Linked DNA regions of Homo sapiens: region 1 is linked to region 2. Evidence: fine-mapped expression QTL. A gene starts in region 2. The other region holds a variant in brackets. All regions are shown on one strand. Distances are from middle to middle. Region 1 has its middle 23 kb from the start of CRIP3. Region 2 holds the start of CRIP3 (cysteine rich protein 3).

Region 1 (5,381 bases), 24 kb before region 2:
ACTAGTTCAGGTAGCTAGGGCTGGAGTACTTTGAGCCTAAGCTTTGGTAGTAACTCCTCTTGTATTCTCTGGATAACTTCAGGATTTACACCAAAGGCATCTACCAATCCGGCTTTTTCAAAAATAATGCTCACTTAAGAGTTACGGGAGTGACATTCTTTATATCTTCCTTGAACCAGCAGAGGGAGAACTTTGAGGATTCTGTATTCTGGGCAGGAAGTGTTGCTGCCTCCTTCCTTTTGGTTAGTGGGATCTAGCTTTGGAACCTATCCAGAGAAGACAGGTGAAAGGAAGGACAGAATTCTAACCCAGTAGCTGGAGATAGAGCATATTTTTTTGTTGTTCTCTACTATCACAGTACTGAATAAACTTTCAACTTAGGAGACTTAGGCACATGGAAGAAATGGGCCCTGAATTTTAAATGCAGCTTATGGTGTAATATAACTATGTTTTAAATTTTACAAACATCAGGAACAACTTTTATCAGATATCCTCAATTGTGAGAAGCAGATGATCAGCAATTATGTTTAAATTTGGGCAAATACCTAATTTTACCTAAGGTGTATAACCCGCTAAAAATTCCCCCTGGCCTTGCAAATGGGGGGCTTCCTGCTTTACAAGCCATATTATATTCACAGGGCACATAATATTCTGCTAATATTGCTGAATAATATAGTTAAGTATTACTTCGCCCATGACACTTCATCTTTCTAAAAAGTCAGAAAGTTAGTATTTTGGTAGCAGAGCATGCCAGCACATAGTCAATTTATCAGTCTGCCAGATTCCAGGACTGAGGAAGAATGGGGTGGGGAGGTGGACATACAGGACACATGCATCCAATAGGAACATAAAGTGTAATTTTAAAAATTGGAGGAGGGTTCAGAGAGGATGTAGCCTGTAACAGAAATAAGTGAGGTAGTTTCTTTTACATATATATATATGTATATATGTATATAGTTTTATATATACTATATATAGTATAGTTTCTTTTATATATATAATATAGATAATATATATATAAACATATATAGGCAAGCTTTGTTGATATATTAATATATATCCCTAAACCTTGGTTCTCACCTTAACAAAGCTTACATACTAAATCTAGGATAAGAACCTAAACAAAGTCTTCATTTATTAACGATTTATGTGAGAACATGGACAAATAGTTTTGTGAGCACATCTCTTTAGAGTTTAAAATTGCAGTAATTTTTATGTAATTTTTAACTAAGTTGTGTATACAATATTCATCGATAAGCCACGAAGTTGAATTTATAATGAAAATCTTCTACTCTTAAAATCACAACTCTCCTGATTTGCCCTCAACCCATATACACTTCCAGAAGAATACATATAAAACATGTATGTTTATGTTGTAGCATTTAATGTGGTTGTAATTTTACATTTATGTTTCTTTGATTAATATATGCTCCCCTTAAGTACATGATAAACTCCCCAAAGCAAGAAGTCTGTCTTTGCTTACTATTTTTTTAATCATTGTATTCACAGTGCACAGTTGTCTGGCATATAGCAGGTACTCAATAAAAATTCATTGAAAGAATCAATGTGGTAATAGTAGCTGTTTTTATTAACAAATTGTGAATACTTAGCAAATTATAAGTCAGTAAAAACTGTAAATTGCCTATTGTATTTTCTGGGTGTTTAGCACTCTAGAAGCCAGCTGTCCTCTTGCTTCTGTCCTGGGTCTTTGTATACAAAGCACTGTATCATTGAGGCATGTCAAGGTTGCCATTGGTTCCCTCACTTCAACAGCATTCTGGAATAATGGCACCAGGCCATGATGGGAACACTGCTTCTGCAGCTCCTAGAAGAGAAACTGAGGATGAGAAGGAGTTAAACTGACCTTACAGTTAGCAAAAACAAAAGGTTTTGGGGATCCAGTTTTCAAATGGCCTCCTTTTTCCTTCCAGCCAGACTTCATAAGCATGCTGAAGTCAGTCAAACCCCAAACCCCTCTGATTTGGTTGAAGAAGTAATTCAACAGTTTATGGTCTCCAGCATCCTCTTGTCATCTCATCAAAACTAAATCGTAACCAAAAAAGGTTGCCTTTGGGAGAGGGAAAAGGAATGCTATCACTTTTTATTTTGTATCTTCTGTTTTGTTTCAACATTGTGACCATGAAAATGCATTTTCTATAAAATATAAATGTTTTATAAACTATACACATGCACACACATACATGTATAAAATGATAACATGTAGTAAGGGTTATCCAGTGCTGTGGAATTATAGGCCAGTTTTTTTTTTACCCCTCTGTATACTTTTCTGTATTAAAATTATTTTTTTTAAGTTGTGTCTCTCCTACTCAGTGCATCCCTGTTTTCCTTCACACCTCTTGTCTGTTTTCCATCATTACAAATAGGTCCTGCTGCTTTTCCCTCAAGACTTCCTAAATTCTTCTATTCCCATCGATGCTGGGCAACATACCTTCTTCAGGAATGTCTTACCATTCTTTCCTTCTTCCTCTCTTCCTCTTCCCATTCTTTCCCCAACCTCTGTTGAACTGGTTGTTCATATTCATTAATGTTGTACAAGCACTTGGACATTAAATGATATAAATCAAGATACCTGTTTCACAAAGTAATACAGGTACACAAAAGATAAAAAAAGTCTGTCGCATGCAAAAGGACAGAAGATAACATCTAGATGTAATGATTTAAAGATTTACAGGCTTTGGTTCCATTTGTGGAGGATTAGGCAAGAAAGAAGTTTTGTAGAAAATAAGGGAAATGAGTATGTTTAAGGGAAGTGAACGAACAGGGTGAAAACAGAGGCAGAGTTACATAACGGGAGAACAAAAGGTAGAGGATGTGGAGAAAGCAGAGATAAAATCAGCCATATTAAGATATTATTTTATTTCGTCTCTCTGACACTCTGTCCCTGCTAAGTTTCCACCCAGCCTTCCTGTAACCACCTTCCTAAGGATGACTATGGTCACATTGTTACAGACTCTCACCCACTTATCTTCCTTTCTTTTCAGGGGCAATTCCAAAAGTCTTCAGATTTCCAAAAGGAAGGACTGCAGCAGACATTTCTGCCCCCAGAAAGGCAGGGATAGAAACCACAGAGGCCACGGAAATGATGGGTGCCCTTGTGGCCAGTAGGCAATCACCTGAAGGATCTGACTTCCAGAAGGTG[G/A]GTATGACTGATGGGGGTGGGGATAAGTTGTAGAGAAGATCCTGTCATTTTAGCTGCCAGGAAATGGTGAGTTGGGTGAGTGAATGTGTATATTGTTGTACCTGTAGAGGATGAACAAGATTAGAATGTACATAGAGGGTATGTATTTTAGACTTGCCACTCCTCACCTTATTTAGCATTGAATAAATTATTCCTGAAGTCCCATATCTCATTTTGTGCCATGATACTTACATTAAAGCTGTAGAGTTCAGGTCTTCATATTCTTCCTGGGCCCTAGTCTCCAATGTGCCCCTAAGTAGAACATCTCTTATCTCAGTTCTAGCCTCTTTTATTGGTCCATACAAAGACAAAGTAAAATTGGGTATGTCCTTAGAAGATTGGGGTATGAGTAAGCAAAGGAGACTCAGTGAAGCGGGGACAATCACAAAGGAGATGTTTGATCCTTCAATATCAGACTTCAGGGCAGCTGTCCACCAGTTTTCACTCTGTCTTGTACTTGTCCCACACACATTGAAACCTCTGGTACACAGTAGCAGGCAAGCATCATTTCAAAACACCAAGGAAACCCCTTACTCTCTGCTCATTTAAAATGCCAGTAGAGGACCAGGCATGGTGGCTCATGCCTATAATCCCAGCACTTTCGGAGGCTGAGGTGGGTGGAATGCTTTGAGGCCAGGAGTTTGAGACCAGCCTGGCCAACATGGTGAAACCCCATCTCTACTAAAAATACAAAAATTAGCCAGGTGTGGTGGCGCACACCTGTAATCCCAACTACTCAGGAGGCTGAGGCAGGAGAACTGCTTGAAACTGGGAGGCAGAGGTTGCAGTGAGCCAAGACCATGCCACTGCACTCTAGCCTGGGCAACAGAGCAAGACTCCGTCTTGAAAAAAATAAAATAAAATCCAAGTAAGGGCTGGGCATGGTAGCTCACACCTATAATCCCAGCACTTTGAGAGGCCGAGGTCAGCAGATCAGTTGAGCCCAGGAGTTCAAGACCAGCCAGGCAACATAGTGAGACCCTGTCTCTACAAAAAATAAATTAGTCCGGCATGGTGGTCCATGCCTGTAGTCCCAGCTACTCGGGAGGCTGAGGTGGGAGGATCGCTTTGAACCCTGGAGGTTGAAACTGCACTGAACTCTGATTGCACTATTGCACTCCAGCCTGAGCAACAGAACAAGACCCTGTCTCAAAAATAAATTTAAAAAAAACTAAAAATGGGCCAGGCGCGGTGGCTCATGCCTGTAATCCCAGCACTTTGGGAGGCTAAGGTGGGTGGATCACCTGAGGTCAGGAGTTCGAGACCAGCCTGGCCAACATGGTGAAACCCTGTCTCTACTAAAAATACAAAAATTAGCTGGGCATGGTGGCATATGCCTGTAATCCCAGCTACTTGGGAGGCTGAGGCAGGTGAATTGCTTGAACCCGGGAGGCAGAGGTTGCAGTGAGCCTTGATTGGGCTACTGCGCCTCAGCCTGGAGGACAGAGACACCAACTCAAAAAAAAAAAAAGGGCTGGGTGTGGTGGCTCATGCCTGTAATCTCAGTACTTTGCGGGGCCAAGGCTGGCAGATCACTTGAGGTCAGGAGTTCGAGACCAGCCTGGCCAACATGGTGAAACCCCATCTCTACTAAAAATACAAAAAATTAGCCAGGGGTGTTGGCAGTCATCTATAATCCCAGCTACTTGGGAGGCTGGGAGGCTGAGGCAGGAGAATCGCTTGAACCTGGGAGGCAGAGGTCACAGTGAGCCAAGATTGCGCCATTCCACTCCAGCCTGGGTGACAAGAGCGAAACTCTGTCTCAAAAAAAAAAAAAAAAGAAAGAAAGAAAAAGAAAAAAGGAAAAAATGCTAGTGGGTACCTTTTTTTTTGGAGGGGGGACAGAGTCTTACTCTTTCGGCCAGGCTGGAGTGGAATGGCGCGATCTCAGCTCACTATAACCTCCACCTTCCGGGTACAAACAATTCTCGTGCCTCAGCCTCCCGAGTAGCTGGAATTACAGGCGTGTGCCACCATGCCTGGCTAATTTTTTTATTTTTAGTAGAGATGGGGTTTCACCATGTTAGCCAGGCTGGTCTCAAACTCCTGACTTCAAGTGATCCACCCGCCTTAGCCTCACTAGGTGCTGAGGTTACAGGCGTGAGCCACTGCGCCTGGCCAAAAAATGCTAATAGGTACTTTTATTCCTCTTTGTACTTTGGGGCTATGGGCTCAGAAACAC
Region 2 (5,381 bases):
GGATTTACCTATTCTAAATATTTCATATGAATTGATTCATATGATATGTGGCCTCTTGTGTCTTGCTTTTCTTACTTAATGTTTTTATGGTTTACCTGTGTTGTAACATGCATCAGTATTACATTCTTTTTTACAGTTGAGCAATATTCTATCATACAGATATACTACATATTGTTTATCCATTATCAGTTAATGAACTTTTGGGCTGTTTCTACCTTTTGACTATTGTAAATAGTCCTGCTATGAACATTCATGTACAAGTTTTTGTATAGACATATGTTTTCATTTCTCTTATATACCTGGGTATAAACCTGGAAGTGGAATTGCTGAGTCATATGGTAACTCTATGTTTAACTTTTTGAGGAACTGCCAGACTGTTGTCCAATGTGGCCACACCATTTTATGTTGCCACCAACAATGTATGAGGGATCCAATTTTGCCACATTCTTGCCAATATTTGTCTCTTTAATTATAACCATCCTAGTCAGTATAAAATGGTATCTCATTGTGGTCCTAATTTGCATTTCCCTAATGACTATTGATATTCAGCATCTCTTCATGTGCTTATTGGCCATTTGTGTATCTCTAGAAAAACATCTATTCAAATACTTTGCTCACTTTTAATTGGGTTGTCTTTTTGTTATTGCATTATAAGTTATTTATATAATCTGGTTACTAGATCCTTATCAGATTTGCAAATATTTCTTCCATTCTCTGGATTTAAATTTCTTGAAATATCCTTTGAAGCACTATTGAACTACTTTTTTTTTTTTCCACCAGTTGTCAAATGATCCTTTATTGAAATATTTTCCTTTGTGCTTAACTGGCTGGGCATTCCACAGAACCACTGTTGATATCATCTATGATGTCATGAGGGTGGCGGCCATCAACATTACAGCCCACAGACTGGGCAGTCCCCAGGATCTCTTTAATGGTGCCAGAGAGTCTATTGAACTACTTTTAACAAATATTTATCTGGGCATGGGGGCATATACCTGTAATCCCAGCACTTAGGGAGGCCCAGGCAGGTGGATCGCTTGAGCCCAGAAATTCGAGACCAGCCTGGGCAACATGGCAAAACCCCATCTCTACAAAAAATACAAAAATTAGCCAGGTGTGGTGGCATGTGTCTGTAGTCCCAGCTACTCCAGAGGCTAAAGTGAGAGGATCGCTTGAGCCGGGCAGGTGGAGACTGCAGTGAGCTACGATGCACCACTACATTCCAGCCTGGGCAACAGAGACCCTGCCTCAAATAAATACATTCATTAAAAACACAAATATTTAAAAATTTTAAAGCAAACCAGATTAGAAATGTGTAGTTGGTTTTCATTTTTATTTATTTATTTATTTTGAGATGGAGTCTCGCTCTTGTCCCCCAGGCTGGAGTACAGTGGTGCGATCTCGGCTCACTGCAACCTCCACACCTCCCGGTTCATGCGATTCTCCTGCCTCAGCCTCCCGAGTAGCTGAGATTACAGGCATGCGCCACCACGCCCAGCTAATTTTTGTATTTTTAGTAGAGACGCAGTTTCGCCTCGATGGCCAGGCTGGTCTTGGACTCCTGACCTCAGGCGATCCGCCCACCTTGGCCTCCCAAAGTGCTGGGATTACAGGTGTCAGCCACTGTGTCCAGCCACCCTACAGCTTTAGGAGTAAACGATTGTATACAGACCATGTTCTGAGGCTTCCAAACCGAGTCTTGAGTTCATTAAGGGATCCATCATAGTGATAGCTATAGCTGTTACAGCGTTTACATGCCAGGCGCTGTTTGGGCACTCTACATGTATTAACCTATTTAACTCTCATAACAATCCTATGAGGCAGAGACTGTTATCATACTCATTGCACAGATGAGAAAATGGAGGCAGAGAGGGAGGTTCAGTAATTTGCCTGAAGTCAAAGAGTAGGGTACCAGAGACGGGCTCCAGATTTTGTTGCTTTCAACCACTTGCTATACTGCCAAGGTGGAATTTTGCATTTCAAAGAATGCCTACTCCCTCGCTTTGGAGAGAGTAGTGTTTTAATGATGTCTGCACTGTGGACATTTTTCCTGTCCTTACCGCTCCAGAAACTAGTAGAGCTCCCTGTCCAGGTGTCTTCGTTACACATGTGCCTTCCTAGTCTGGAGTCCACGGCTTCAAGATCCTCTCTCCTCCCCGTGGGTCTGACCGAGGCTTTAATGCTCTTTGAAGTAACAGCGAAATAGCCCTTTGTCTCCCAAGTGGAGTGGTTCTAAATTTCTGATAACCAATGAGCGCCGAGGAACCGCGGATTCCGCCCAGGGAGGCTCAAAGCTGAGCCGTGGGTGGAGCCTGCGGAGGGGGCGGAACTGAGCCGCAGCGGCGTACCTACTGTGTGCCGCGTGCGCTGCCTGGAGCGGAGCTATGAGCTGGACCTGTCCGCGTTGCCAGCAACCTGTTTTCTTCGGTGAGGCCCGGGCTGCGGAGGGGGAGAAGATGGGGCGAATGGGAGCCGCTGGATTCCCTGAGGACGCGGAGGGCTAGCCACAGTGTAGTCCCAGACACCCTTTTCACCTGCAGCGGCTGGTAGTCTCCGCACCACCCGCTCCCACTCGGGTCTTCTCCCTTCCTCTGAGAGCTCTGTGGGGAGTGTGAAACCGGAGCGGGATGGAGCTGGCCTCCTGGAGACACTCATCTCCAGGAAGCAGGGCAGGCCAACCTAATTCCCTAGAGGGCCGAAGAGGGAAAGGAGGGGCCCTATGCTTGGACAGGCTCCTCGCAGCTCGGTTCCACTTTGTCCTCCACAGCTGAGAAGGTGAGCTCCCTGGGCAAGAACTGGCACCGCTTCTGCCTGAAATGTGAGCGCTGCCACAGCATCCTGTCCCCTGGCGGGCATGCAGAGGTAAGACCTGGCCAGGGAGCACTGCCCTGTTTACATCACTGCCTCCCACCCCCCAGGCACCAGCCCCCAACTTCAGCACTGGAGGCCTGCCAAAGGGAACCTCAGTAGCCAACCCCAAGGCCGCCCACCTGGTGGACCCCACACCAGCCAGGAATTTGGGAACCTGGGTCGTGACTGTGGATCCCATGGTTTTGGGGATCAGGGTGAGTGGGAAGCAGCGTCACCTTCTGAGCTGCTCTTGCTCTTCCTCCCTTGACCACAGTGGAAATGCTGGCATGCCAGCCCATCCCCCACCCCTCCCAGGCCCACCAGACTCAGCCAGTGGACAGACACACCTGGCAGCCTGTCTGGGGTGAAGGCCTGTGGGGCATGGCTCCCGCTGGCCTTGAGTAACCCACTTCCCTCTGCTTGTGCCCAGCACAATGGGAGGCCATACTGCCACAAGCCATGCTATGGGGCTCTCTTTGGACCCAGGGGTAAGTACCAGCCTTAAGGGGCCATGGGTCAGCAGAACCCTCCTTGTGGCTGGGAGCTGGGGGCTCAAGCCTGACCTCCCCTATTCTCTCTTCAGGGGTGAACATTGGTGGTGTAGGCTCCTACTTGTACAATCCCCCCACTCCCAGCCCTGGCTGCACCACTCCTCTCAGCCCCAGCAGCTTCAGCCCTCCCAGGCCAAGGACTGGCCTCCCCCAAGGCAAGAAAAGTAAGGCTGGGCTCAGCTCCTCCCAGTCCTCCTCCCGACCCTTCCCCAAGCTGGAGCGGAGGTTGGGCCAGGTGGCAGTCTCCTATCCAGCCCTCTGCTTCACATTCTCACAACTTCATTCTTGGCAAAGTCTTCTCTATCTACTCCCCGCTTTTTTTTTCTTTCTTTCTTTCTATTCCCTCATGTGAGCTGCTGAGTTAAGAGGTAAATTGTTGGGAGGCCGAGGCAGGTGGATCATGAGGTCAGGAGTTCGAGACCAGCCTGGCCAGCATGGTGAAATCCCATCTCTACTAAAAATACAAAAATTAGCCAGGTGTGGTGGCTCATGCCTGTAATCCCAGCTACTTGGGAGGCTGAGGCAGGAGAATCATTTGAACCCAGGAGGCGGAGGTTGCAGTGAGTCAAGGTCATGCCATTGCACTCCAGCCTGGGCAACAGAGCGAGACTCCATCTCAAAAAAAAAAAAAAAAAAAAAAAAAGAGGTTAATTGGGCAGATGGCATTATCCCCTCTCCTCGTGTGTTACAGGTGAGGAAAGTGAGATCCAGACAGGGCAAATGACTGTCCATCCACAAAGCTAGTCAGAGGCAAAGCTGGCCAGGAACTTAGGTCTGTCCCAGGCCAGGGCCATGGAAGGAATGATCTAAAGGAGAGGAGTCATTGGGATAAGGCCAGCCTCTCATATTCTTCAACTTTTCTCCTCTGGTCCCTGTTCTTTCCCTCCATTCCCTGAAGTAGGCAATGACACTGTGCTCCCCAACACCTGACACCCGTGCTGTGGCCAGCTCCTATATCAGCTCAAGTTTCCTGAGGATTGAGTTGCTAACAGGGTTGGGATGGTGGGTACGTGAGCCCCTGGGAGGATGAAAAGGAAGCAGGAGAAGGAAGCAGATAGTCCCTAATACACATAGGGATGGGGCAGGAGGTGGAGTCAGAGGGGGCTCAGCTCTGGGCCTGTAGAAGGCAGACTCTTGGGCGCCTGGGTGGGGCACTCTGGAATGAGCATGGCTTTTGAAAGAGGACAGCACCATATGCAGGCAGGTGCTGGTGGGCATCTCCACCTCAGACATAGCCAGGGCCTCTTCCCCTTTAAAGGCCCTCCCCATATGAAGACATTCACTGGGGAGACCTCGCTGTGCCCTGGCTGTGGGGAGCCCGTCTATTTTGGTAAGTAACAGTGGAAAACTTGGGGAGGGGGATACAGGGTGGGCAGCAAGGGGGAGGGAGGTGATCCAAGGCAGGTAGGTCTCCCTACTCTACCCCTAGAATGGAAGCATTACCACTTCTTTCCACCACCAGCTGAGAAGGTGATGTCATTAGGCAGAAATTGGCACCGACCGTGTCTGAGGTGCCAGCGTTGCCACAAGACCCTGACTGCTGGGAGTCATGCTGAGGTGAGCAGGGCAGGAATGAGTGGTTATGTTGGGAGGAGGCTGGAGATGGGAAGAGAACCAGGCTGAGACAGCTCTCTTTCTCTCTGTGTCTCAGCATGATGGAGTCCCCTACTGCCACGTCCCCTGCTACGGCTACCTGTTTGGCCCCAAAGGTGGGCAGCCCCATCCCAGACACTGGGATGGCATGTACATGCCTGAAGTATGGCATGTACATGGTCTGTGGGTATGTGTGGACAACTTCCCCTGTGGTTAAGCATACCCTGGCCCCCCCACCAAGTTCCCTCTAGGCCTGAACCCTGCACCACAGACCCAGGGCCTTTGGTGATAGGGCTCTCTCTCTCAGGTGTGAACATTGGCGATGTGGGCTGCTACATCTATGACCCAGTGAAGATAAAATTCAAATGAGACGCTCACAAAAAAGGT

The links. PIP is the estimated chance that this variant, and not a neighbour inherited with it, causes the effect. A credible set is the group of variants that fine-mapping cannot tell apart.
Region 1: its variant is the best candidate, but not a certain one, in a credible set for the expression of CRIP3 in whole blood (INTERVAL, PIP 0.56).

The regions. Positions count from the first base shown.
Region 1 is chr6:43,329,474-43,334,854 of GRCh38, reverse strand. No RefSeq gene overlaps it. Among named protein-coding and RNA genes, the nearest start is that of CRIP3, 23 kb to the right of the region's middle. The variant G/A (reference allele first, on the strand shown) is at 3,161.
Region 2 is chr6:43,305,796-43,311,176 of GRCh38, reverse strand. It overlaps CRIP3 (cysteine rich protein 3), which reads left to right and starts at 2,351. Exons shown (of 8, transcript NM_206922.3): 1 at 2,351-2,427; 2 at 2,768-2,862; 3 at 3,281-3,338; 4 at 3,434-3,565; 5 at 4,660-4,731; 6 at 4,864-4,958; 7 at 5,053-5,110; 8 at 5,302-5,381. The coding sequence starts at 2,385. The coding sequence ends at 5,363. It also overlaps the pseudogene RPL12P47. RefSeq lists an enhancer at 2,834-3,691.